Regions from separate parts of the Homo sapiens genome. Here all the other regions are linked to region 1. Evidence: fine-mapped expression QTL. A gene starts in region 1. Each other region holds a variant in brackets. All regions are shown on one strand. Distances are between the middles of the regions.

Region 1 (8,185 bases):
TTTATATATGGGAAAACACAAAATTTACTTATAATTTAACTATTTAAGATTTTAGATTATAATCTCTGATAGTTTATGCAAAGAAAAGCAGAGTTTAACATTATAAAATTCAATATAGTGAATAATGAACATCTTTCCATAAAGATAGGTATATCATTTCTTATAGCACTTTCTACAAAATGAAAATTTTTCTTGTAAAGGAAAGTTAATTAACAAATCAATGATACTTTTACTTTTCCAAGACTCAAGTAAAGCTAGAATTCTGTAAGGAACAAGACATTATCTCATCAACTATGACCCTAGTTCCTCCTGGAGTAGATTTATAAAATAATGGCCTTTCTCTACCACCATTCAGTTCCCTTTCTTCTAAATCAAAAAGAGCAGTGGTAGTATACTCTCTGAGAATTAACTGTACTTTTAGAATTGAGGACTCCAGATGAAATATACAGTAGGCTCTTGAATAATGTCATTTTATTCCACATCATTTCATTATAATGTTAATGAAAAAAATTGATTACCCACCCGGTCACTGACTGTGTGAGGTTTGCACCTTCTCCTCACGTCCACATGGGTTTTCTCTGGGTACTCCAGCTTCCTCCCACATCCCAAAGAAGTGCATGTTAGATGAATTGGGGTGTCTACATGGTCCCAGCATGAGTACGTGTGTGTGTGTGTAAGGGCACCCTGCAATGGAATGGTGTCCTGTCGAGGGTGGGTTGTGGCCTTGCATCCTGATCTGCCAGAATAGACTCCAGCTACCTAAAGCCCTGAACCGAAATAATTTGGTAGTTATCTTATTTGTCTTTCTTACTGTTTTGTAAATATATGTCTAGCTCACATTTATTTCAATGTTTAATACTAGGAATGTGTTGGTCTTTATTTAGAAGTTTGGTGATGTTTTTGTGACAAGAAATATGCCTTAGAAACTTTATTCTTATTTATATCAATTAGCCTATGGTAAAATTGGTTTTATTATGTCGTTTCACTTAAAGTCACAATTTCTAAGAACCTATCAACATTAAAGGATGACTTACTATATGTGTGTGTGCATATATATATATATATATATATCTGCACGTGTGTGTGTGTGTGTATAAAATAGAACTTATCTTTAGGCTATGGTGTATAAATCTAAGAAAGACAACCACAGCATTATTCTAAAACTTTAGATAAAAAAGCAGATACAAAAGTTAAATAGCTTAAAGTCCATGTAGTTACTAGCAAAGTAAAAAATATACTTTAGATCTTTCAAAATATAAAGCAAAATTTTACCTTTATTCGGTAAAATTTCTCCACATTAAATCCTGCAGCATTCGCCAACCTACGCAGATTTTCTTGAACCACTACCTTGGGATCTCTCCGTTTGGAACTACTGAAGAGATTGAATGAGCTAAGAGTTGGTATATAAGATATCCCACCTGTTCTTGTAGTAAATCCATGTATGAAAATATCTGTTGAAGATAAGCAGTGAAGATTTAAAAGATGCTATTCAAAATACCAGTCTCTCAATTAGACCTTCCCTGATCACTGCTACCTGCCCTTGTTATTTGGCTTCTAATTTCTATGGCATTTTGTACCTCCATATGTTCTTATGGCATTCTGCTTTGTGTTTGTTTTACACTCCCTATGAGATTGTTGCTCTTCAAAAGGTATATTGTGTCTCATCTGGCTTTGTTATATCTAATAGCATATAGCTCACAGAAAATACTGTTTAACCAAGAAGTAAGATTGATTGTTTTAAATTTTACTCTTCTATGAAGGTGCCAATGATTTGAAATTTCAGAATTTCTAAATAGAAGATTTTCAGTGTCATAAATCTCATTGCAAAGGAGGGCTAGATTATTTGTCTCATCATCAAATTTTTGTAAAGCAAATTTATTTATTTGGGGTGGCTTTGAAGGCTTTATCCCTTGACACCCCTGATACTACAGGGCCAAACATGACACCTCTGTGTTGCCACTGATGCTAATGAGTAATCAGCCCACAACAGTCAACAAAAGAAAGGAGGAAAAAAAGAGGTGAACTACCTCTGAAGAAAGACTAGTTTTCCATGTACAAAGTAAAAACAACAGTTAGTGGTTAATATACCTGGGATCAAAGAAGAAGTGATAATAGTTAATTTTCCTCTCAGTGCTGGCAGACTTCTCAAAAATGTTTCTATTTCATTCTGAATTCCTCTTAGTTCTTGAGCTGTGATTACGTTTATTTCAATGGACTGTTTAAAAAGCCCTCCCCTAAAAGTCACTTGCAAATCTTCAAATTCAAAATTGTAAACATCAGTGAAGAGTTGATCAATAAAAGCTTTCATTAATGTCTTCCTGTGCCTGGGTACAATTACCTTAATGCTGCTCAGATTTTTTTCATCAATTTTCTGTTTAATGGTATACAAAGTGGCAGCCATGCTGGGACAGCTAACAATCTCAAATTCTTCCAAGAGAGCTGATAATCCATTGCTTGTTTCTATTTCACAATTATCTTGTTCTCCATCCCTTTCATAGCTGATGTTACTGCAACACATTATACAGAGAAACTTGGCCTTGGCAGCATGGTGGTATTGGACAGCATTCAAAGTCTTCAGTAATGTCTGATGGCAGTTTTTTTGAGAGTTCAATTTCAAACCAAAAAGATCAATCAAAACAGCTTCTGCCATCCTTGAAAGAATACTTTTATGCCAAATAAATCACCTGCAAATAAAAATTAGTGTAAGAATATAAGATTATATAAATCTTATAGTTACAACAGAAATTTGTGGTAGATTAAAAACGAAGTAATTACACTGATTTTAAAATGTAACTAAAATAGTAAATCTAGGCCCCTCCCAGAAAAGCCAGTCTACTCTGTCACAACAGAACCATGACAGTGAAAGCAAAGCCATCTTTTAATTCGTTTTGTGAAAATGCTGGTACATCTTTCCAGCAGCACGACAGTTCCTCTGTTTTGTTTACACAGAACTTTTGAGTAAGGAATTACTTGTGGAGTTTAGACAAAGTCCTGTTTTTAAATTGCAGAGTGTCAACCTGTGTGATATATCATTAGTCCTGACATGATTGTCATATTAGGTCTCATCCTTTCATATGCGGGGGCTTAAGTTTACGAAGCTAAATGGAGCTGCACGCGAAATTCGCGTTTTAAGATGATAAAAGCTGAGATGGCTAATAGAGTTCCCTTCAGGATTTGCGCAGTACTCCACACTTAGCAATGACCACAAAAGCTATAGTGATTTGGATGAGACAGGCTTCCTCTCAACTTTCTTAATTCATTCTCCCCGTGCAGCTTTGCTCACCTCCAGCCCAGCCCTCCCACCCCAACCTGCGGGGCTCCGGTGACCCCCTTTGGTGACGCCCTTTGCCCCAAGAAGGTTTTCTCCTGCCGCTTCCCCTAACCTTTGCTCCCCATCTCTCGGGGCTCCCTCTGAGGTTCATTTAGCCAGTTTTGAGTGGGTGACCGTCCCCCCTTCCCTGTTCATTGTGAATTTCCGCCCAACGTGTGTCGCCGCCAGGTCCCTGTTCCTCCTACCCGCCTCGGCTCACGGGGCGCAGGCTGTGGCTCTGCACCTGCCCGGGCACCTCCACCGGCGGCTCACAGCCCATTCGGGACTTCCTGTCGGACAACGCACACCAGAGGCGATTCGGTCCTCGCCTTCCCGCTCTTCACCTTCGGTTGCACACCGGTCTACGGCGACCTCTGTGACAATTTGCCGCCCCGTCCCTCGTCCTGAGCCTCAACGAAATTGGGCAGCCGCGAGCGGGTCAGCTGGAGTCGTAAGCTCGGCCCAGCGCGACGACACCCGCCCCGCCTCACCTCGCCCACCTCGCCCACCTCGCCCCGCCTCGCCTCGCCCCGCCTCGCCCCGCCTCACCTCGCCCCCCTCGCCCACCTCGCCCCGCCTCACCTCACCTACCTCGCCGCGGCCGCACAGATTCCCCGCCTGATACCGTCCCAGGATCCCAGGGGAAACCTGACGGCCAGGTTCCCTCGTGCCAGCTGCCGGGAGGCGGGAGGGAGGTAGGCCAGGGCCGCCTGGCGTGCTTGGTGCGAACGCGGCGGGCCCAGCGCGAGAGCTGGGGAATCCCGGGATGAGCCAAGCGCCGCGAGCCCGCTGCTGCCTCAGCAGTTCCGGGTCTGGGCGGTCCGCGGAGTCGGCATCCCGCAGCCCCGGCGGCGTTAGAGGAACAGGAACCAGAGCCGCGCGAGGGCTCTCGCCCGGGAGCCAGGCGGGTTAGCGGGCAGGAGTGGGCAGGCCGAGTCCGGAAAGGGTCGCGAGGAGGCAGCTAGGGGCCCCTTGAGGAGGGATAGGGCGGCGGAACGACGGGCCCTGGGAGCGGGCGCAGGGCGGCAGGAGCTGCAGGTCTCCAGAGGGCACGGGGCGGGGAACTAGGGGCCCGGTTAGAAAGCCGGGCGGCGGGAACGGCGGGCACCGTGAGGGGGCGGCGGGAATGGTGGGTCGCGTGAGGCCGGGCTGCTGGAGCGACCTCGGGACTAAACCGCAGTCTCCCTTCTGCTAATGGAAGCCGTTTCCCAAGCGAGCTGAAGTCCGCGTTTCCGGTCTCTGAGGGACGCCTCGCTGACCCAGCAGTGTGGTCAGGACGCTGGGTTTCCTCACCGCAGCCCAGGGCCAGTCCCTTGTCATGCTAGCTCTTGGCAGCTTTTCCCATGCAGGGCTCAAGTCAGGGGCCCCCTCGAGATGTTTTAGTGTTTTTTTGTTGTTCATTTGTTTCCAGAAACAAGCTGTTGTCTCTCCTCCAATGTCTTTGTGCTGATTCTTGCTGACCAACACTCTTCCGAGCGCCTTCACTTGTGTTGACAACACGGATGTCCTCTATGGCCTTTTAAAATATGTGCCACTAGCAGGACTTAAGTAAAAGGCGCTCATCCCTAAAATCATGATAAAGGTGCAGTTTAGCATCCCTGATCTGTCCTCCAAGAATATAACGTTCATTTATTTGAAAATAGCAGTTAGGACATGGAAGGCCAGTGTATGGTAAAGGGAAAAAATATCCGACCTTCCAAGAGTAAGAGAAATGGTGCTTCCTGGGGAACTGGTTATGATGGAAGGAGAGGTCCCTTTTATCTTCATTGTTGCTCATTTGGTAGGCGCTAAAGAACCTTTGTCTCATAATCTCAGATAGCTGGGAATTTGGAAGAGCCCTCTGGGGTAGGCATGTTCTTGTGCTTGACTAGAGACTGGGAGCACTAACCCAGAATGGAAACCCACCCTTCAATAACCCTAGCACCAGTTATGTCAAAATTCATGTTTTCTTTGGTCATTTGTTAAAGAGCCCCGAGCGGTAGATGGTACACCCAATCAGAAGGTGCACTCTGCCCTGAGTTTGTTTATGTTAAATATCATTAGATTGGTGCAAAGGTAATTGCGGTTTTTGCCATTGACAAAGACCACAATTACTTTTGCACCAGCTTAATACCTCAAGCAAAACAGAGGTCTTTTAGTTACAAAGGTTTTAAACATTTATCTCTGTTTTTACAATGGTGGGATTCGTATTCTTTCATGCAAAAGTAGTGGCAGTAAAAAAAAAATGAAAAAGAAAATATTTCAAAAGAATGAAGTTGTCAGGGAAGAGAGTTTGTTATATTGTATTTGCATACCATTTCCTTTCACCATCTGGTCCTAGTGTCATGTCCTAACACTTCCTCATCCCATTTTCACTCTATCCTACTCCAGTGGTTCTCAGTCTTGGCTGCAAATCAGAACTGCAAGTGCAACTGAAAAAAAAAATAATTAATGTAGAGACTCTATCCCAAATATACATTGAATCAGAATCTCTAGGAGTTAGGCCTGAGCATGTTTTGCTTTGCTTTTTTGTTTTGTTTTAACCTCTATGTATGAGTTAGATGCATAATTAAGTTTGAAAAAATAAAAACACCCTATTCCCAAGCCACTCAAATAAAAGCTGTTCTTTGGAGGCCACATGATTTCATTCTTTACATTTGCAGTTCCTCTACTTAGCAAAATACCCTCCTTTTTATATGCCTAACTGCTACTTTTTGTTCAAGGCTCTTCAAGCTCAAACATAATCTTCCCTGAATCCCCATCCCTCATCAAGCAAAATTAATAGCTTCTTTACATTTTGTTCATATGAAGAAGCCCTCTCATAGATGTAGTCTGGGCCCCTAGCCAAGAAATAAGTGGAAAAAATGGTTAAATATTGAATTGTACACTTTATAAGGATGTACTTTGTGGTATGTAAATTATATCTAAAAAAGGCTTTTTTTATAAGAAAAAAGGTCAGTTAAACCACAGAATCATGAAAAAATATAACAAATACCTTAAACTGTATTCTAACCTAAAACAACTGTGTGTTCATTTGCCCATCTATTGAGAAGATCCAAGACCTTTTCTTTGCATGTAGTCTACTGATTGGAATTCTGCATACTATCTCTTGCATAAACCGTACCCATAAACCATCAGCTAAGATTTCCCAAGATTTTGTTCTTTTAAGGGGAAAATAACTTAAAGGCACCTGTGAAGCAATCTGAGGGCAGATTTATACTTTGTAATTTTTTTCTTTTTTGAGATGAAGTCTCGCTCTGTCGCCAGGCTGTAGTACAGTGGTGCGATCTCGGCTCACTGCAGCCTCCACAGGGTTCAAGTGATTCTCCTGCCTTAGCCTCCCAAGTAGCTAGGATTACAGGCGTGCACCACCACGCCCGGCTAATTTTTGTATTTTTAGTAGAGACGGGGTTTCACCATGTTGGCCAGGATGGTCTCGAACTCCTGACCTCTCTTGATCTGCCTGCCTCAGCCTCCCAAAGTGCTGGGATTACAGGCATGAGCCACCGCTATATTTTATAATCTTTTACAGTTAATCTCACATACTTTTGTTGGGTCTTTCCAAAATATTAAACATAGATTTTTAAAGAAACAACAATTTCCACACTATTTCATTGGTTTATACAATATTAAGTTACGAAAGCACAATATCAAGCACAACTGGCAAAAACAGGTTTGCAAACAAACACAAGTAAGTCATAAGATTGAACTAGTCAATTGATAGGAGCAGAAATAGGCAGATTTACTAGTTAACAGTTTCCTAGCATGATATGGGAATTAGTCACTTATGACTTACAAAGGTAATAGAGTGAGTTAAGTGGTTAGAGGTTATGTGTAGATAGGCTTAGACATAAGCTGCTGCGCCTCTCCATTTTAATTGACTGTGTGTCTTTCTGCCTAGAGTGTTTTGAGGGCAGAGATAGTGCCTGGCTATTAAGGGAACTATTGAAGAACTCACCAGACATTTTTATAATGCTATGTAAATCTTCTCATGAGAACAAGTATAATTTTAAAGAACAAAACAGTTGTTTTTAAGCCATTTACACTAAGGTTTATGGATCTTTCCAGAAAAAGCCATGTAGCAGATGCAAATTTCCTTGCTAAAAGCTTCTGTTAGTTTCCTAGGGCTAGCATAACAAATTGGCACTAACTGGGTGACTAAAAACAACAAAAACTTGTTCTCTCACAGTTACGGAGGCCAGATGATGAAACTGAGGTGTTGACAGCACCTTGCACATTTTGGTGGTTCACTTACCTCTTCTGTTGTCTGGTGACTTCAGGTGTTCTTTGCCTAGGGGCTAAGTGACTTCAAGCTCCATGCCTCCATCGTCAAATGGTCTTATTCCATGTGGGTCTGAGTCTCAAGTAGCCCTCTACCTTTCTCTTATAAGGATTCTTGTGTAGAAATAAATGAAGATCAATCAAATGAGAACAAGCAAAAGCTATTTATTCAGGCCTTGTAAGGGAGGGAGCCACAATCTCCTGCATTTTAGCAAAGTTGAAGGCAGGCAGAGGAGTGGGCATGCCCTGATTAGAGGCTCTCAGCATGAGGAAGCTGCAGGCAGGCTAACTAGAAGTGGAGCATTCTATGGCTTCTTTTTGTTAGTCTCAACTTGGAAATGGGGACAAAAGTTAGGGAAGATGCCAGTTATTAATCCAGTACTGGTCATTTGGGACAATTGTTATAGTTTGTCTCCTAGGATTGTTATTAGAGATAATGATTTAACTTTCTACAAGTCTAATTTATAGACTTCCTGGACTGGTTACTGTAGATAATGGGTTAGTCTCCTGGGTTGCTTGCTGCAGGTTGTGGGTCAGAGTTCTGTTTTTACATATGGTCTGGCCATTGTCCATTTGCATATTCAGTCACCTACCCTAAATCCAGGATGATCTCAT
Region 2 (8,185 bases), 170 kb after region 1:
TTTACCCCAGTAATTTTATATCCTTATTTTAAAAACTATAATTCTCATAGACAGGCTATTTGCTTTTTAAAGCCACTCTGGGAATCTATGGCTTGCCGTTTCATTTTCTTAATGATGTCCTTTGAAGAGCAGAATTTTTTTATGTTTTGTTTTGCCTAACCCTTAGTGGGTTTTGTGTATGGAAAGATCTTTACCATCCTAATGTCATAAAGGTTTTTTCTTCTATCAGCTTTATATTTTTAGTTTTTATATGTAGCTCTATGAATCGTCCTGGGTTACTTTACCTATATATTGTGAGGCCTATTTATTCATTACAGATTTACATTTGTTTCAGCATCATTTGTTGAAAAGATCACACTTTCTGTCTGTATTGAATTACCTTGGTGCTTCTGTTGAAAATTAATTTGTCCTATTGTTAGCTGCACCAAATCCATATGGGTCTGCAGCCACCTTAATTCTTGCCTCCTCAGAAGAAAGAATTTGACTGAGGGGCCATAAGGCAATGCAAGAGACTAAGGCAAGTTTTAGAATAGGAGTCAAAGTTTATTAAAAAGTTTTAGAGCAGGAACAAAAGGAAGTAAAGTACACTGGAAGAGGGCCAAGCAGGTGACTTGAGAGATTCAAGTGCACTGTTTGACCTTTGCCTTGGGGCTTTATACATTGGCATGATTCCAGGGTCTGTGTTACTTCTACCTTGATTCTTCCCTTAGGGTGGGCTGTCGACATGCGCAATGGCCTGTCCGCACTTGGGAGGGGCTGCATGCCCAATGTGCTTATTGAAGTTGTACGCATGCTCACTTGAGGCATTCTTCCCTCACCAGACAAATGTTCCTAGAGCAAGGTCATATACCAGTTAAACGTGCCAGTTTGCCTTTTAGTGCTCATGCTTGAGCCCACTCACCCAACTCCTGAGATCTTATTAGGAAGCCGCTGATCATCAGCTTCAGGTGTTCTCTATCTACTGGGAAACTGCCTTTCCTGGCACCAGCTACAACCAATTATTTTAGAGAGGCAGTTTAAGAACTGTCTAGCCATCACCTGATGGTGTCCTGACATTCCTAGTATAAGGGGGACCCCTCTCCCACTCTGCTCATGTCTGCCTAACTACCTAGTCTAACAATATATGTCCACATACATATCTTAATTCCTTATTCCATTTAATTGATCTTTTTTTCTGTCGTTATATCAGAACCACATTTTCTGATAGCATTTTTGTAAATTTTGGAATCAGGTCCTGTAAATCTTTCTACTTTGTTCTTGGTTTTTTTTTTTTTTTTTTTTTTTTTGAGACAGAGTCTTTCTCTGTCACCAGGCTGGAGTTCAGTGGCGTGATCTCGGCTCACTGTAACCTCCACCTCCCGGGTTCACGCCATTCTCCTGCCTCAGCCTCCCGAGTAGCTGGGACTACAGGCGAGCACCACCACGCCCAGCTAATTTTTGTACTTTTAGTAGAGACAGGGTTTCACCACGTTGGCCAGATGGTCTCGATCTCTTGACCTCATGATCCGCCCGCCTTGGCCTCCCAAAGTGCTGGGATTACAGGCGTGAGCCACTGCGCCCCACCCTGTTCTTATTGTTTTAATAACTATAGGTTCTTTACATTTCCATACAAGTTTTAGACTCACCTGTCAATTTCTGTAAAAATCCTGCTGTGATTTTCATTGGGATGGCATTGAATCTACAAATCAACTTTGGGGCAGGTCACGGTTTAATGTTGAGACTTCCCTGAAACATGAAACATCTATTCATTTACATAGGTCTTTATTCTTTTTCTTCAATATTTTTTGGTTTTCCGTATAGAGGTCTTGCATATTTGTTATTATGTTTTTTCTCTATTTAATGTTTTATTATGCAATTTTTAATAGTATCGTTTTAAATTTCATTTTCAGTTATTCACTGCCGGTATATAGAAATAGAGTTGATTTTCATATATTCACTTTCTGTCATTGGGCCTTACTAAAGGAATTTTTCAGTTCCAGTAATTTTATGTGTATGTACATTCCTTAAAATTTTCACTGTAAGCAACCATGTTGTCTGGGTCGGGAGTGAGGGTGGGGGCAAAAAACAGTTTTACTTCTTCTGTTCTAATGTTTATGCCATATATATATATATATCTTTCTTGCCTTACTGCACTATCCAGGACTGGTAGTTCAATGTTGAGTAGAAGTGGTAGGAGTGGATATTTTCCTGACTTTAGGAGAAAAGCATTCAATATTTCAACATTAATTGTGATATTAGAGTGAGATTTTTTTTAGATAGTTTTATCAGGTTCCCTTCTATTACTAGGAGCTTGTTTTTTTTTTTTCTTTCTTGATCATGTGCTCAATTTTGTAAAATGTCCTTTCTATATCTCTTACAATGATCATAGTTTTTATTTTTACCCATATATTGTTAATATTTTTGTTAATCAGATACAGTTTTGAATGTTGAACTAATCTTGTATTTTTGGGAAAAATACCATATGGTCAAGCTGTATTATCTGTTTATGTATTACTGGGCTTGATTTGCTTAATATTTTGTTACAGCTTTTACATCTTTCTGAGTGATATTGGTTTGTGATTTTTCTTTTTTGTAATATTGCTATCACATTTTGTTATTAGGGTGATAATTGTAAATTGTGTTGTGGTATGCTCCTTCCGCCTCTTTCTTTCTTTTTTTTTCCAAGAACCCAAATTGGCCCTGCTGATATTCATTACTGTCTCTTTTCTATTTCATTGTTTTCTGCTTTATTTTATTGCTTCCTCCTTTCTAATTACTTTGTATTAATTTATTCTATCTGTAGCTTCTTAACTTGGTAGCATAGATCATTCACTTTAAACCTTTCTTACTTTTTTAAATATAAGCTTTTTAAATCTACAGATTTTTTTCTAAGCATTGCCTTAGTAAATCTCACACATTTTTATATGTTATTATTATTTAGTTCTAAATATTTTCTAATTTCACTTATGATTTCTTTGTACCCATGGATTGTTTAGAAGGAATATTCTGAGAGGCCTGGTAATTTCTAGACCTCTTAATATTGATATCTTATTAAATACTTTGTAGACAGGAAACATATTCTATCTGATTTTTAAAAATTTATTAAGATGTTTTTTATTCCAATATATAGTCTGTCTCATTAAATATTTTTCAATGTACTGGACAAGAATGTGTACTATATGAATTTTGCTTTGTTGAGTTTACTATTCAAAATATATTTTAAGTTGAAGTTCACTGATAATGTTCAAATCTTCTGCATTCATACTATCCCCTTGGTCTGTTGTTTTATAATTTCCTAAGAGAGGGGTGTTAAAAATCTCCAACTATGTGAATGGTTTCTATTTTTTCCCCTTATTTCTACTAAGTCTTTGTTTCATATATGTTAAAATTCTTGAGCTTTATTAATGAAACGGCCCTCTATAGTAACACCCCCTTGTCATTATGAAATTACCCTCATTTTCTCTGGTAATATACATTGGCTTGAAGTCTACTTTGTTTG[A/C]TATTTATATAGCCATACAGGCTTTCTTATATGTGGAATATTTGATGTATTTTTTTCATTCTTTTTTTTAAACTTGCATATATCTTTACATTTAAAGTGCATCTTTTTTAATAGAGCATGTATTTGTTTGCTTTCTTATCTAGTTTAAAAATCTTTGCCTTGTAATTGGAGTGTTACATATATATATATTACAAATATATATATATATAGAGAGAGAGAGAGAGAGAGAGAGAGTTGTTGTTTGTTTGTTTTTTGAGATGGAGTCCCACTCTGTCACTCAGGCTGGAGTGCAGTGGTGCAATCTTGGCTCACTGCAGGGGTGTTACATATATTTAATTTAATTTTTGATATTTGTTTTTAAGTGTGCAATTTTGCTATTTGGTTTCCATTTGTCTCCTCTATTTTGTTTCTCTGTTCCTCCTTTCCTGAATTTTTTAGGTTAAATAATTTTAGTATTATGTTTTATATCCTCTGTAGTCTTTTACCTATATCTTTCATATTATTGGATAATATCCAATATCCAATTATGTTACTGGTCAATATTAGGCTTTGTTAGGGTAGAACTGTTTTTGTTTTGCCTTTAGTTGTAAGGAAAATAGTTCTTCAAATAAGTATTTATTCTTAACTCATGGCCCTTCTGTGATGTCACTAGAAAGCCCAAGTTATTTGCCAAGCCCCCACTATCTGGCAGGACTTAAATTGCAAATTCAAGATAATAATTATTAGCAGCTGAAATATACAGCTGCTGAAATCTCTATTTGGTTCTTTCCGCCTTCCATTGGTTCGTTTTATCCTGTGCTCTTTGGAGTCTTGCCCCATGCATGCATGTACGTACAATTTAAGTGATCAGCCAAGGATTTAAATGCGGGATTCAGGTCTTATTTCTACGCATTTCTTCGTTGTGGATCACCAGTCCCACCCCCTGTTGCTTTTTGCAGTGCTCTGGCAGCCTCAGACTCTGTCCTCTGACTCTTCATACTAACCAGACTGGATTTCTGCTTGAATTCCACCTATCTTGTCCTAAGGGAAAAGATGTATAAAAGTAGATCTTACCCAGTGTGTTGTTTTTTTTTCTTTCAAAGGTCAGTTTCCTTCTTCATTTGGTTTCCCTTCAGTGCCTTCAAAAAGTTGTTTTTATGTTTTGTGTGGAGCTTGTACCTATTTTCAGCAAAGTGTTAGTCTGTTATAAGCTACTCCACCATTATTAGAAGTCAGAACTTCTCTGAGGGTCTTGATTGGTGGGCTTATACCATTTATAATGACTTTAAATACTGTTACATCAGGACTTATTCCTGTTATCTTAGTCATATATATTTTCTGTTTATTATGTTTTCTTTTTGTTTTACTTTTTCTTCTTCTTTTCTGATTTCCTTTGTACACATCACATTTTCTTTTGTTTAAAAGACACTAGTTCAACATTATGTGATTCTCCCTAACTTATTAAAGTGCACTCTTCTTTTTTATTTTTCTCTATCGGTGTCTTAATTTGTTATCCATAATTCTATCAAGAAGAATACAATGGCATACCTATTCTTGGTGTCTTTCACCATCCCTGTTATTTTTAGTTCTTTGCTACTAAGGTCATTTTTTTCAGGTTTGAGCATGAGGAAGGGATACAATAACCTGTTCTAGTTTACCATTTTGCTATAAATTGCAAAAAGCTGTTTTTTAAAAAAATATATATATAATGTACATATATGTCATTTTTTAAAATAGGAAAAGCTAATAAAGAAATAGCTTCTAAAGGAAGGTTACTATAGAACTGGTAAGCATAGGGTATTTTTAGTAGTCAGTTATTCCTTTTTGGGCAAACATTAGGGGAAACAAAACAGGTAAAGTCTTCATTTGGAAATTAAGGTAAATTCTCTTAACTCCTAGCATATTGCCTGTTTGTTATATATTTTGCTTTAAATTTGTCATCTACTGAATAAAATCTACTCTCAAGAAATGTTATTGAGATATTCTATAGAACAAAGGAATAGGACTATGAATAGGACTTCTGAAGTAGAAAGGAAGATAAGCGTATAACATTCCCAGAGACGCTTCAGAGAGGTATCTAAGAATACTATCTAAAGCTGCCTGGATTTATGGCCCCGAAAAGCAGTCTTCACTCAGGGGAATAGCAACATTTCTGGTTGCCCATAAATGGAAGGGAAAAACTAAAAGACAGTGAAAGGGATAAGGGGGAGAAAATCTAGATTGTTGGCTACAATGTCTATTCCATACTCTTTATGTTTCTACAGAGGACAGAATGTACACACTGCACCTGAGGAAGGAAAAATATGGAAAGAACACTACCCATTTTTCTATGCCTCCCAAGTCATTCCTCTCCTGGATTTAAAGTTACCTATCTTAGTCTGTGCCTGGTACTATAACAAAATACCATAGAATAGGTAGTTTATAAACAGTAGAAGTTTATTGCTTTCTGTTTTGGAGCCTATGAAGTCCAAGATCAAGATGCCAGCAGATCTGCTGTCTGGTAGAGGCCTGTTTTTCATAGATGGTGCCTTCTGTGTGTCCTCTCTTGACAGAAGGGGCAAAAGGGCTTCCTCAAACTTTTTTTTTTTTTTTTTTTTTTTTTTTTTTGAGACAGAGTCTCACTCTTGTTGCCCAGGCTGGAGTGCAATGGTGCAAACTCAGCTCACTGCAGCCTCTGCCTCCCGGCTTCAAGCCATACTTCTGCCTCAGCCTCCCGAGTAGCTGGGATTACAGGCACCTGCCACCACGCTCAGCTAATTTTTTTGTATTTTTAGTAGAGATGGGGTTTCACCATGTTGGCCAGGCTGGCCTCGAACTTCTGACCTCAAGTGATCCACCCACCTCGGCCTCCCAAAATGTTGGTATTACAGGCATGAACCACTGCGCCCAGCCCAGACTTCTTTTATAAGAACTCTAATCCCATTTGTGAGAGCTCTGTCCTCATCACTTAATCACTTCCTAGAGGCCCCATCTATTAATACCAAGTTTCTACATATGAGTTTTGGGGGGACACATTTTGACTATAGCATTACCTGAAAGGTGAGTTACAGAGTAGGAATTCAGCATGCCCCGTTCTTCCAGATTTGCCTGCCAGTAGTTTTCCATCTATGCCAATGGATAAGTTTAATCCTGCAGTAGAGTATTAGCCAACCCCTCTGGCATCAGATATAAAGCTATATTCTTCAATCAGACTGAACAGTAAAGCATTGATATCTTTTTATCCCCTATCTGCCTGCTTCATTTGCCTTTTAATTTGTTTTGGAACTTGTGAGAAGTGCTATTTATCTATCTATTTAAACCTCAACAAGATATTTCTGCATTCAGTCAATTTGTATGATGATCAAAATGAGAGTAATATTTCAGAGCACTAAAAAGAGTACAAATGAACCATTGATACGTGCAGCAACTTGGCTGGGTCTAAAGGGCATTATTCTGAGTGAAAAAAGCTAGTTTCAAAAAATTTCATAGTGTATAATTCCATTTATATAACATTCTTGAAAGGACAGAATTATAGAGATGGAGAACACATTAGTGGTGGCCAGGGGATAGGGATAGGATGGAGGGAGTAGCATAAGGGTGTTCCCTGGTGGGGTTAGAAGAATGCTGTTTCTTGATTACAGTGATGGTTATCAGAATCTACACAGGGACTACACCTATGTAAAACTATATATATACATACATACATACACATGTACAAATGAGTGCATACAAAAGCTGGCAAAATCTGAATAAGGTCTGTAGTCTGTATAAGGGTATCATACTATTGTAGTTTCTTGGGAAGATTATTATAATTCCAAAAGACACAATTCCAAATGCCATAATCCCAAAAGATAAAATTCCTTCAGTCTAAAATCCCCAAAATCACAATCCTGAAAGATAAAAATCCCAAAAATATAGTTCTGGAAAAAATAATTTAAAAATTCTTTAAAAGATATGTATTTGCATTTTAAAAGGGGATTTATTTATGAAACATATAAAAACATGACAGAACACTTCATAGGTTACCTTACACAATAAAATACACAATACTAACATAGATATTTTGTGTAAGCACTAAGGTATACACACAATAATTGCATGGGTATAACAGTTATGAGCAGATAAACCCTATTCATAAAGAAATAGGTAAAAAGGGAAATAATGAGTGCATATCATTGTGGTTTGTAACCGTGTGCACCCAGCTTTGTACCTGTGGTCATCTGAAATACTGTGATGAACAATCTAAGTCTTTTGAGGAGATTAGTTAAAAAACTAAGATGGGTCACCACAACATATACAGTCACACAAATTGCTGAGATCTTGAGAAATGTTATTTTTTACAAATGCACGTGTACAAAAAGTACATCTCTTTATTGAGGAAATTTCAGTGTTTTTATGTACATGCACAAATGCTTACAAACAAAAATTAACATTGTGATAATGCACTTTCGTGGAGTCTCTTGCAAAAAAATGCGTAAAACTAATTGGAACCCTCTAAAGGTCTCTACAGTTTTGTACCTCCAGTATTGAAATGATGTGAAGATGAAATACATAGCAAGTGAATTGTAGAAAATAATGCTGATAATTTTAAAGAGTGAAAAACTAAAATAATAAGAAAAAATCTTTTAAAATTCCATGTGTGAAAAAGTGTATTGCAAGAATAGATTGTGGACAGTTGCCTGGAGATAGTTTATAAGAGTTGGGTGACTTTCACAATCATTATATCTTAAAGTCTTGTATCATGATGAA
Region 3 (8,185 bases), 65 kb after region 1:
ATAAGCATTTCTTTTTCTGCTAAATATTTTTTTAATTATACTTTAAGTTTTAGGGTACATGTGCACAACATGCAAGTTTGTTACACATGTATACACGTGCCATGAAGGTGTGCTGCACCCATTAACTCGTCATTTACATTAGGTATTTCTCCTAATGCTATCCCTCCCCCCTTCCCCCACCCCACAACAGGCCCCAGTGTGTGATGTTCCCCTTCCTGTGTCCATGTGTTCTCATTGTTCAATTCCCACCTAGGAGTGAGAACATGTGGTATTTGGTTTTTTTGTCCTTGTGATAGTTTGCTGAGAATGATGGTTTCCAGCTTCATCCATGTCCCTACAAAGGACATGAACTCATCATTTTTTATGGCTGCATAGTATTCCATGGTGTATATGTGCCACATTTTCTTAATCCAGTCTATGATTGTTGGACATTTGGCTTGGTTCCAAGTCTTTGCTATTGTGAATAGTGCCGCGATAAACATACGTGTGCATGTGCCTTCATAGCAGCATGTTTTTTAATCCTTTGGGCATATACCCAGTAATGGGATGGCTGGGTCAGATGGTATTTCTAGTTCTAGATCCCTGAGGAATCGCCACACTGACTTCCACAATGGTTGAACTAGTTTACAGTCCCATTAACTGTGTAAAAGTGTTCCTATTTCTCCACATCCTCTCCAGCACCTGTTCATCTCACTGGGGAGTGTCGGACAGTGGGTGCAGGACAGTGGGTGCAGCACACCGATCACAATTAGATGAATGGCTAACTAAAATAACCAATGCAGAGAAGTCCTTAAAAGACCTGATGGAGCTGAAAACCACGGCACGAGAACTACGTGACGAATGCACAAGCCTCAGGAGCCAATTCAATCAACTGGAAGAAAGGGTATCAGTGATGGAAGATCAAATGAATGAAATGAAGCGAGAAGAGAAGTTTAGAGAAAAAAGAATAAAAAGAAACAAACAAAGCCTCCAAGAAATATGGGACTATGTGAAAAGACCAAATCTACGTCTGATTGGTGTACCTGAAAGTGACGGGGAGAATGGAACCAAGTTGGAAAACACTCTGCAGGATATTATCCAGGAGAACTTCCCCAATCAAGCAAGGCAGGCCAACATTCAAATTCAGAAAATACAGAGAACGCCACAAAGATACTCCTCGAGAAGAGCAACTCCAAGACACATAATTGTCAGTTTCACCAAAGTTGAAATGAAGGAAAAAAAGTTAGTTGCCTTTTTACATCATTTACTATGTCCTTTGGTGCACGGAATTTTGACATTTTGATGTAGTTCAACTATTTATCTATTTTTCATTGCCTGTGATTTTACATCATATCTAAGAAATCTTTGCTAAATCCAATGTCATGAAGCTTTCCACCATGTTTTTTCTTCTAGTAATTTTATTGTTTTAGCTCTTATGTTTAGATTTTTGATACTTTTTTTTTCAGTCAGAGTCTGGCTCTATCACCCAGGCTGGAGTGCAGTGGCACAATCTCGGCTCACTGCAACTTCTGCCTCCTGGGTTCAAGTGATTCTCCTGCCTCAGCCTCCCAAGTAGCTGGGATTACAGGCATGTGCCACCATGCCTGGCTAATTTTTGTATTTTTAGTGGAGACAGGGTTTCACCATGTTGGCCAGGCTGGTCTCGAACTCCTGACTTCAGGTGATCCACCCACCTTGGCCTCCCAAAGTACTAGAGTTACAGGTGTGAGCCACCATGCCCAGCCCAATATTTGATACATTTTGAGTTGATTTTTGTATGTGGTATAAAAGCAGGGGCCAACTTCATTCTTTTGCAAGTAGATACCCAGTTTTCCCAGCACCATCTGTGGAAGGCTGTTTCTTCCTCATTGTATGGTCTTGGTCCCCTTGTCAAAAATGTTTTGACCATCTATGTGAGAGCTTGTTTCTTGGCATTCTATTCTATCCTGTAGGTCAATGTGGCTGTCTTCATGCCAGAATAATCTTTCGTTTGTGACAGAAGTAGCAATTATTTTCCCCAGCTTGTCATTTGTCTTTTTACTTTTTTATATTACTTTTGCCATGCAAAAGTTGTTTTATTTTTATGTAGTTGAACTGATCAATTGTTTTACTGTTTTTGTATTTTGTGTCATAGTTAGGAAAGTTTTTCTCATACTCAGCTTATTAAGAAATATGTCAATGTTTCCTTCTAGTACATGAATAACACCATGTCAATTTATCTAATAATTGTTATCTTCAATTCTACTACAAAGTGTCCATATAAAAAGAGAAATTGACTCCTTTTAGTGAATCCATAATAAGAAACCAAATTGAAAAACACTGCAAAAAGACTGATGGCCAAGCTCGAACGTAATGTTTTGTTTATAATAATGATGGCAGTGATGATAATGACAGCTATTGTCTGGTGACTTCATAATCAGCACAAGGCACTGTAGGAGATCTTTGCATATACTAAGTACAGAAAAAGAAAAGCACAGCTTTTAAGAGCTTTAACTTCGGATTTACATAAACTTGAGTTCAAATATGTGTTTTATTAGATTTTATTCCAAACTCTCTCACTTACTGGTTGTGTGACTTTGGGCGAGTTTCTTTTGTTCATTAAATCTCATTTTAAAAATCTGTAAAATGGAAATAATAATAGGATTACTTCATGGAGTTGTAAGATTAAATAAGATAATGCATATAAAGCCCTCAGTGATTAGCATTATGTATTTAATACACATTAGCCACTGTTAATCACCAGTTTAGAAATGAAATTACTAAAGTGATGAGAAATTAAATAAAGTCATTTAATTAGTAAGTGTCAGAACTGGAATTCAAACCCAAGCTTTAATCTGTTTTCACTCCAAAGTTCTTACCCCTCTTCTACATCAGTAGAAAGTATTTTTTATATGAATACTGATTTTTAGAAAAGCCTTAGAATAGAGCATACTGGAATGTTAAGGAAACAGCTTTTTTTAAAAAAAAAAATTAGAAACAATGGCTTTATTTATTTATTTATTTATTTAATTTTTCTGAGACAGAGTCTTGCTCTCTCACCCAGGCTGGAGTGCAGTGGCGCAGTCTTGGCTCACTGCAACCTCCTCCTGCTGGGTTCAAGCAATTCTCCTTCCTTAGACTCCTCAGTAGCTGGGATTACCGGCATGTGCCACCACACCCAGTTAATTTTTGTATTTTTAGTAGAGAGGGGGTTTCACCATGTTTGTCAGGCTGATCTCGAACTCCTGACCTCAGGCAATCCGCCTGCCTCGGCCTTCCAAAGTGCTGGGATTACAGGTGTGAGCCACCACGCCTGGCCAGAAACAATGGTATTTACAAAAGAAACTTAGTGTACAAAAACATAGTGCATTACCCCATGATCATTGCCTCTTTGTCCACAATCAAATGGGATGTATTCAAAATTTTTGAGCTGAGAAGTTAGAGAAGAAAAGGACTGAGAACGTGTGGCTAGATTGGGTAATTAAAATCCTATGGCTGATTGTTAAAGCAGAAACCACAGTATGTGTGGTTAAGGAGCAAGTGTATACCAGCAGCATCGGGGCTGGTGGAGGCTGGATCAGGCTAGCCAAGATTAGACAAGCTTTCTGGGGGCCGAACAGGAACCAGGAGAAGCCCTAGAAGGGAGAGAGAGGACTGATAGCAGGGAGCATTTATTCCTCATGACTCATGTTTCCATTAAGGGAAGAAAATGTCAAATCTACTCCCCAGGAATGGAAAATTATGAGAGGAATGCTTTCAGCTT[A/C]TCTCTGATTTTCCTCTTTTCCTAGTAGATGACTGATTTATCTTTTGCAAAGTTGGAAGAACACTTAACCCCTGACTCTCCATAAGCCAGCCTGCAAACCAAGTGCAGAGAGAGTGCATTCTGGGCTGCTGTTGTAGGAGAAAATTCAACTCAGCAAGGCTTTTGACCAAACATCTAAAGACATGTTCCCCAGTTGGCTTTATCAATAATGAAGTTAACATTTTGAGGTTGATTCTTCCAAACATGAGAGGGGGAGAAAGTAGTGTGCAAGGGGTCAACAGGCAGAAGCTGAAGCAGGTGAATATCCAGGTGGCATCAGTATGCTTAAGTAACAGTAATGCAGGCAGAATCCCATCCCAAGGTGAAGCATTTCCACAGACACTCTAAACTGTGAATCTAACTGCACTAGTTGCTTTCTTGTGACTAGATTTAGCCTAGAACCTAAGTGCAAGCTCACCCCCTTACAGGTGGAATTTGAGGCCTTAGGTGTGAGAAATAGAAGGATAATATGCCTCAAACCAAAAGAGTAGAAAAAGGGAAATTACATGTTTATTGCACTTTTGAGAAATGAGATAGTAAATGAAAGGCTAGAAATACAATAATTTAAGAGGGGGATTTTCTAGAGCTTGGGCAATAGGACTGTTGCAGAGCTCATGAAAAGGGTGACACTGAAGATGCAAGAAAATAGAAGGTAATTCATGCAGTAGTCCTGGAAAGCCAGGAGGGGACAGGATCCATACAGAGAGGAAGGCATAGCCTTGGGAAGAAAGAGCATTCCTGAGACAGGATGAGAAAAATAAGAGAACGATCAAAGGCAAAAGAAAATTTTAAAGTGAGGAGGAAGGAAATCAAAGGAGCTCTTGTTTAGATAGAGGGTGAGGATAACAGCTAAGGGTAAAAGCACAGAGCTAGTGCAATTGAGAATGAAATGATGTGAACAGACATAAAGCTACTGGGAAAAAAGGGATTGACATTAATGATCTAAGTAATGCAGATCAGAGTAAATCCATGGTGAGCCCACTGAGCTCAGCTTTGCCATGGTTGTCCAGCAATGTTCTGTTGTCCAGGATTAGGAGGCACTGCAAAAGAATGGTTGGCAATTGAATTAATACATTCAATATGTCAAATGCATTTTAATTTTTCTTTTTTTCTTCTTTCCTCCCTCCCTCTCTCCTTCCCTCCCTCATGCTTTCCTTCCTTTCTTCCTTTATTTGATTTTACTTGTAACTGACTTGAAACTCAAACTTTTCTTTTTTAATGAGTTTGGATTTTTACCACAGGGTCATCATGTTAAACAGTTATTCTCTCAATATGGTAGTAGAGTTGTAAACATAGAAGTTATAAAAGGTAACATACCTGGGAAGTAGCTTGCTTACTTTGTTGGCTTATTTTAAAACCAAATTCAACATCTCAGGTTACAAGTGCAGTATTAATATTTATTGAACACCTAAGAAGTGCTAGACATTTTCTAGGGCACCATACAAACATGTAACTTGATTTAAGAAAGTATTCCAATTGGTATGATTCTGGACCATTTATTCAACAAGTGTACATCTACTAAGGGAATCTCTGCAACATAATGTGCAAGGCATGGTCCTCTCCTTCCTGCCACTAATACCTGAAGCAGATGAAACAGTTCAGCAGCACTGAAAGAGTTAATATAATGAAATACCAAATATGTTTCACAAATTTTCAAGGAGTGAACAAGATGAGCTATCTTTGAGACGATGGGCAGGATATGGATGAAATAGAAAGGAAAGGCTGGGATATTTCAAACCATAGCCTTTGCGTGCTGGAACAACCACGAAACTGAGCACGGGGGTCTAACTATCATGGAGAAGGAATAAAAGAGAATCTTTGAGTCCAAGCTGTATGGAGACTCAGAGGCTGGGTGGGAGTCGGGAAGCAGGGAAACATGTCTCTGAGGATCTACACCATTGGTTCATGTGCTACTCCCTGCGTTGGTTTAGACATGAAATCATAACTATGGCAGGATTCTTTATAAAGTGTCCTATGAATATTATTATTTATAATCATTCCATCATTATAATGCTTTTCAGAACATGAAGTCTTTAAGAATCAGTGTTGTCTGTAATCATTAAAGTAAGTCCCTCTCCAAAGCAATCCTTAGCTGACCAACCCATTAGTCCAAGTTAAACTGGAAACTACTGACTCTGGAGTAAGCCATAAGGCCTTTAAGAGACCTGCAATTATTTCTTTTTTAGCCTGTGAATATGCTAAATAAATATGAAGAAGTGGCAATTTAATTTTTAAAATTTTTCTCTTAAAGGCAGACACTAAGTTGAGATGTTTCTATTGTTTATAGGTATAAATGCTACTAATGGGTTGATGCCATTTTAACATGCCTCTTGAAAGTGAAAAGAAATGGCCTGGTAATTTTTTGTTTTGACAAGTGCTTGAACAAAACCTATCATAATATATCTTATAACCCTCAAAGCTATGGCAGGTCATATGTAAGACCAGACTGACCCTGAATCAGAAAGCCCCCGGACAGTTGGGTGGGTTGTAAGGGATCTCAGGAGACGACTTAGTCCAGATCTACTCACCCCTCCCAAATCCCCTGCTCTTCACACAAAGAGGCTGAATAGTAGCCTGGTCCTGGCTGCCACACTCCTGACCTACACCTCCCAACATACCTAACACTTTGACAGATTCACTCATTCATATAACAAGAACGTACCTGTGGAGAAGAAATTCAGATCCACAGTGAAAAGACAGACATAGTTTCGGCAGTCATGGAGCTTCCAGTTGAGCATGGAAGGCAGATATGTAAGAGCTATTAGGCTAATTATTTAATTATAAATATGGTGAGTTCTCTGCTTCCCCTCTTACACAGCCCACATAAAGCACAGGGAAGAAGGCAAGCATATGCTGTATAAAATATGCTGTGATTCATTTAAGTTACATTCATGTTCTGTGTCCAACAGCAAAACCCAATCAGCTCAAGATTGACTAAGTTCCATTAGAAATCAAAGCAGAACAGCATATGGCTTTGATATATAATTTATATTTTTTCCTCACCATTTTATTTGTCCTTTGCCCTTTCCATATTCATGTCAATAGCCACTACTTCAGGTGTAGAAAGTAAAGTAGCCTTTGCCCCTTCTGGCTTTTGTTTCTAAAAATAAAATGTAAGCCCATAGAAGAACTTACACTGTTTATAGAGGATACATAAGGGAAAAAATATTTGCAGGAACAAGTGGAATTTGAAAAAAGTAGGAGAGAGAGAGAGGTTTCCCAAGAAAGGGAGGCCTGGGAGCAGGGAGGAGTCAAATGCAGCCTCCAGGGAGGCAGTGGGAGCCTAGTGCAGAATGGCTTCAGGTAATAGTTGTGACTGGGGAGGAAGGAGGACAGGGAGGCTTCAGAGGGCAGCCAGACTGGAAGGGACAAAGCACATAAGCACATTCTCTTTAGGATACAATCAGCAAACCACTGTCTTCACCCATGCCCTGCTAGGTGTATCCTCCCTACCACTTGGCAACATCTCAGGGAGATTCCATAGCATTTCTGGTAATTTTCAACTACAGCTACAGTCTTATCTTTAGGTACACATAAGTCTTACTTTAATTTTTTAATTTAAACTAAAGCTTCTCTCCTCTTAACTGAAGCCTGACTTCTGGCTTTGTTTGGGTACCAGGAGTAGGAAGTGCAGGCTGTTTCTACTGCTGTCTTCTTCTAAACTCCAGGTCCCAATACCACATCCCCTCCTCCCCTCCAGTGGGGAAGAGGAGGGCTGAAAGCAAGAGAAAAGGCCTTTTTACTTAGCTTTTGCTGTTTGTGGTTCTGTCTCAATGGTCATTAAAATGTAGTCTCTGTTGGGTTGTATTTGCAGATTATTTAAATGCCTCCCCACCAAGGAATGCTAATCTGCACCATTCTCTATGAGACACTTTCCAAATGACCTCTTACCAGCCTCCTCAGGTTCTGTCCTCTAGTGATGACCCACAGTCTCCTTCTGCTTGCTGGGGGCCATTCACTTTAACAGGCAGCCTCTGGAGATGGCTCAAACCTGGCTCCTCCCAGTATCCACTTGGTGGTGTGCAAAATCCCAGAGCAATGGCACATTTGGGGCTGGAGGAGGCTTCCAAGAAAGGCAGAGGATAAATTCTCCTCCAAAAAATGGATGATGGGAATCCTAGAGTCAGAAATTAAGTTCGGTTATAGAAAAGAAATGGGTATGTCTTGCACAGTTATGTTCATGGTTTGAGAGTCCTACCTGCTATGCAAAAATAGGAAGTCACCTGCATGAATGTTGTCCCCTGGAATCGTATAACACATGGCCCTAAGCATCTATTAATGTAGGCCAATAAGGTTTTGTCCATTGCAATACATTTCCCTGGACTTCTTTGAAATAGTTGCAGAGAAGAAGTCAATTGCCATTATCCTACAAGAGGATGATGGCAGGATATCTAACCAGCTTGTAACCTTATAAATTATGATATT

Direction of the effects. Positions count from the first base shown, and alleles are read on the strand shown. Sizes are in standard deviations (SD) of each study's normalised expression. Not every link is listed here.
In carriers of allele A in region 3, the expression in atrial appendage of the gene that starts at base 3,732 in region 1 tends to be higher than with C alone (moderate effect, 0.70 SD a copy in GTEx).

What was found. PIP is the estimated chance that this variant, and not a neighbour inherited with it, causes the effect.
Region 2: its variant is fine-mapped to the expression of LACC1 in whole blood (INTERVAL, PIP above 0.99).
Region 3: its variant is fine-mapped to the expression of LACC1 in atrial appendage (GTEx, PIP above 0.99). The same link has a PIP of 0.9 or more in left ventricle.

Annotation. Positions count from the first base shown.
Region 1 is chr13:43,875,451-43,883,635 of GRCh38, reverse strand. It overlaps LACC1 (laccase domain containing 1), which reads right to left and starts at 3,732. Exons shown (of 7, transcript NM_153218.4): 1 at 3,517-3,732; 2 at 2,089-2,684; 3 at 1,273-1,451. The coding sequence starts at 2,650. CCDC122 (coiled-coil domain containing 122) reads left to right here and starts at 3,896. Exons shown (of 7, transcript NM_144974.5): 1 at 3,896-4,005. RefSeq lists a silencer at 3,845-3,994.
Region 2 is chr13:43,700,833-43,709,017 of GRCh38, reverse strand. All of the region lies in intron 1 of ENOX1 (ecto-NOX disulfide-thiol exchanger 1), which reads left to right. Among named protein-coding and RNA genes, the nearest start is that of ENOX1, 82 kb to the left of the region's middle. The variant A/C (reference allele first, on the strand shown) is at 3,479.
Region 3 is chr13:43,810,880-43,819,064 of GRCh38, reverse strand. LOC124903166 (a long non-coding RNA gene) reads right to left here and starts at 7,883. Exons shown (of 3, transcript XR_007063773.1): 1 at 7,652-7,883; 2 at 6,423-6,483; 3 at 4,249-4,800. It also overlaps a transcript of CCDC122 not described here. The variant A/C (reference allele first, on the strand shown) is at 3,722.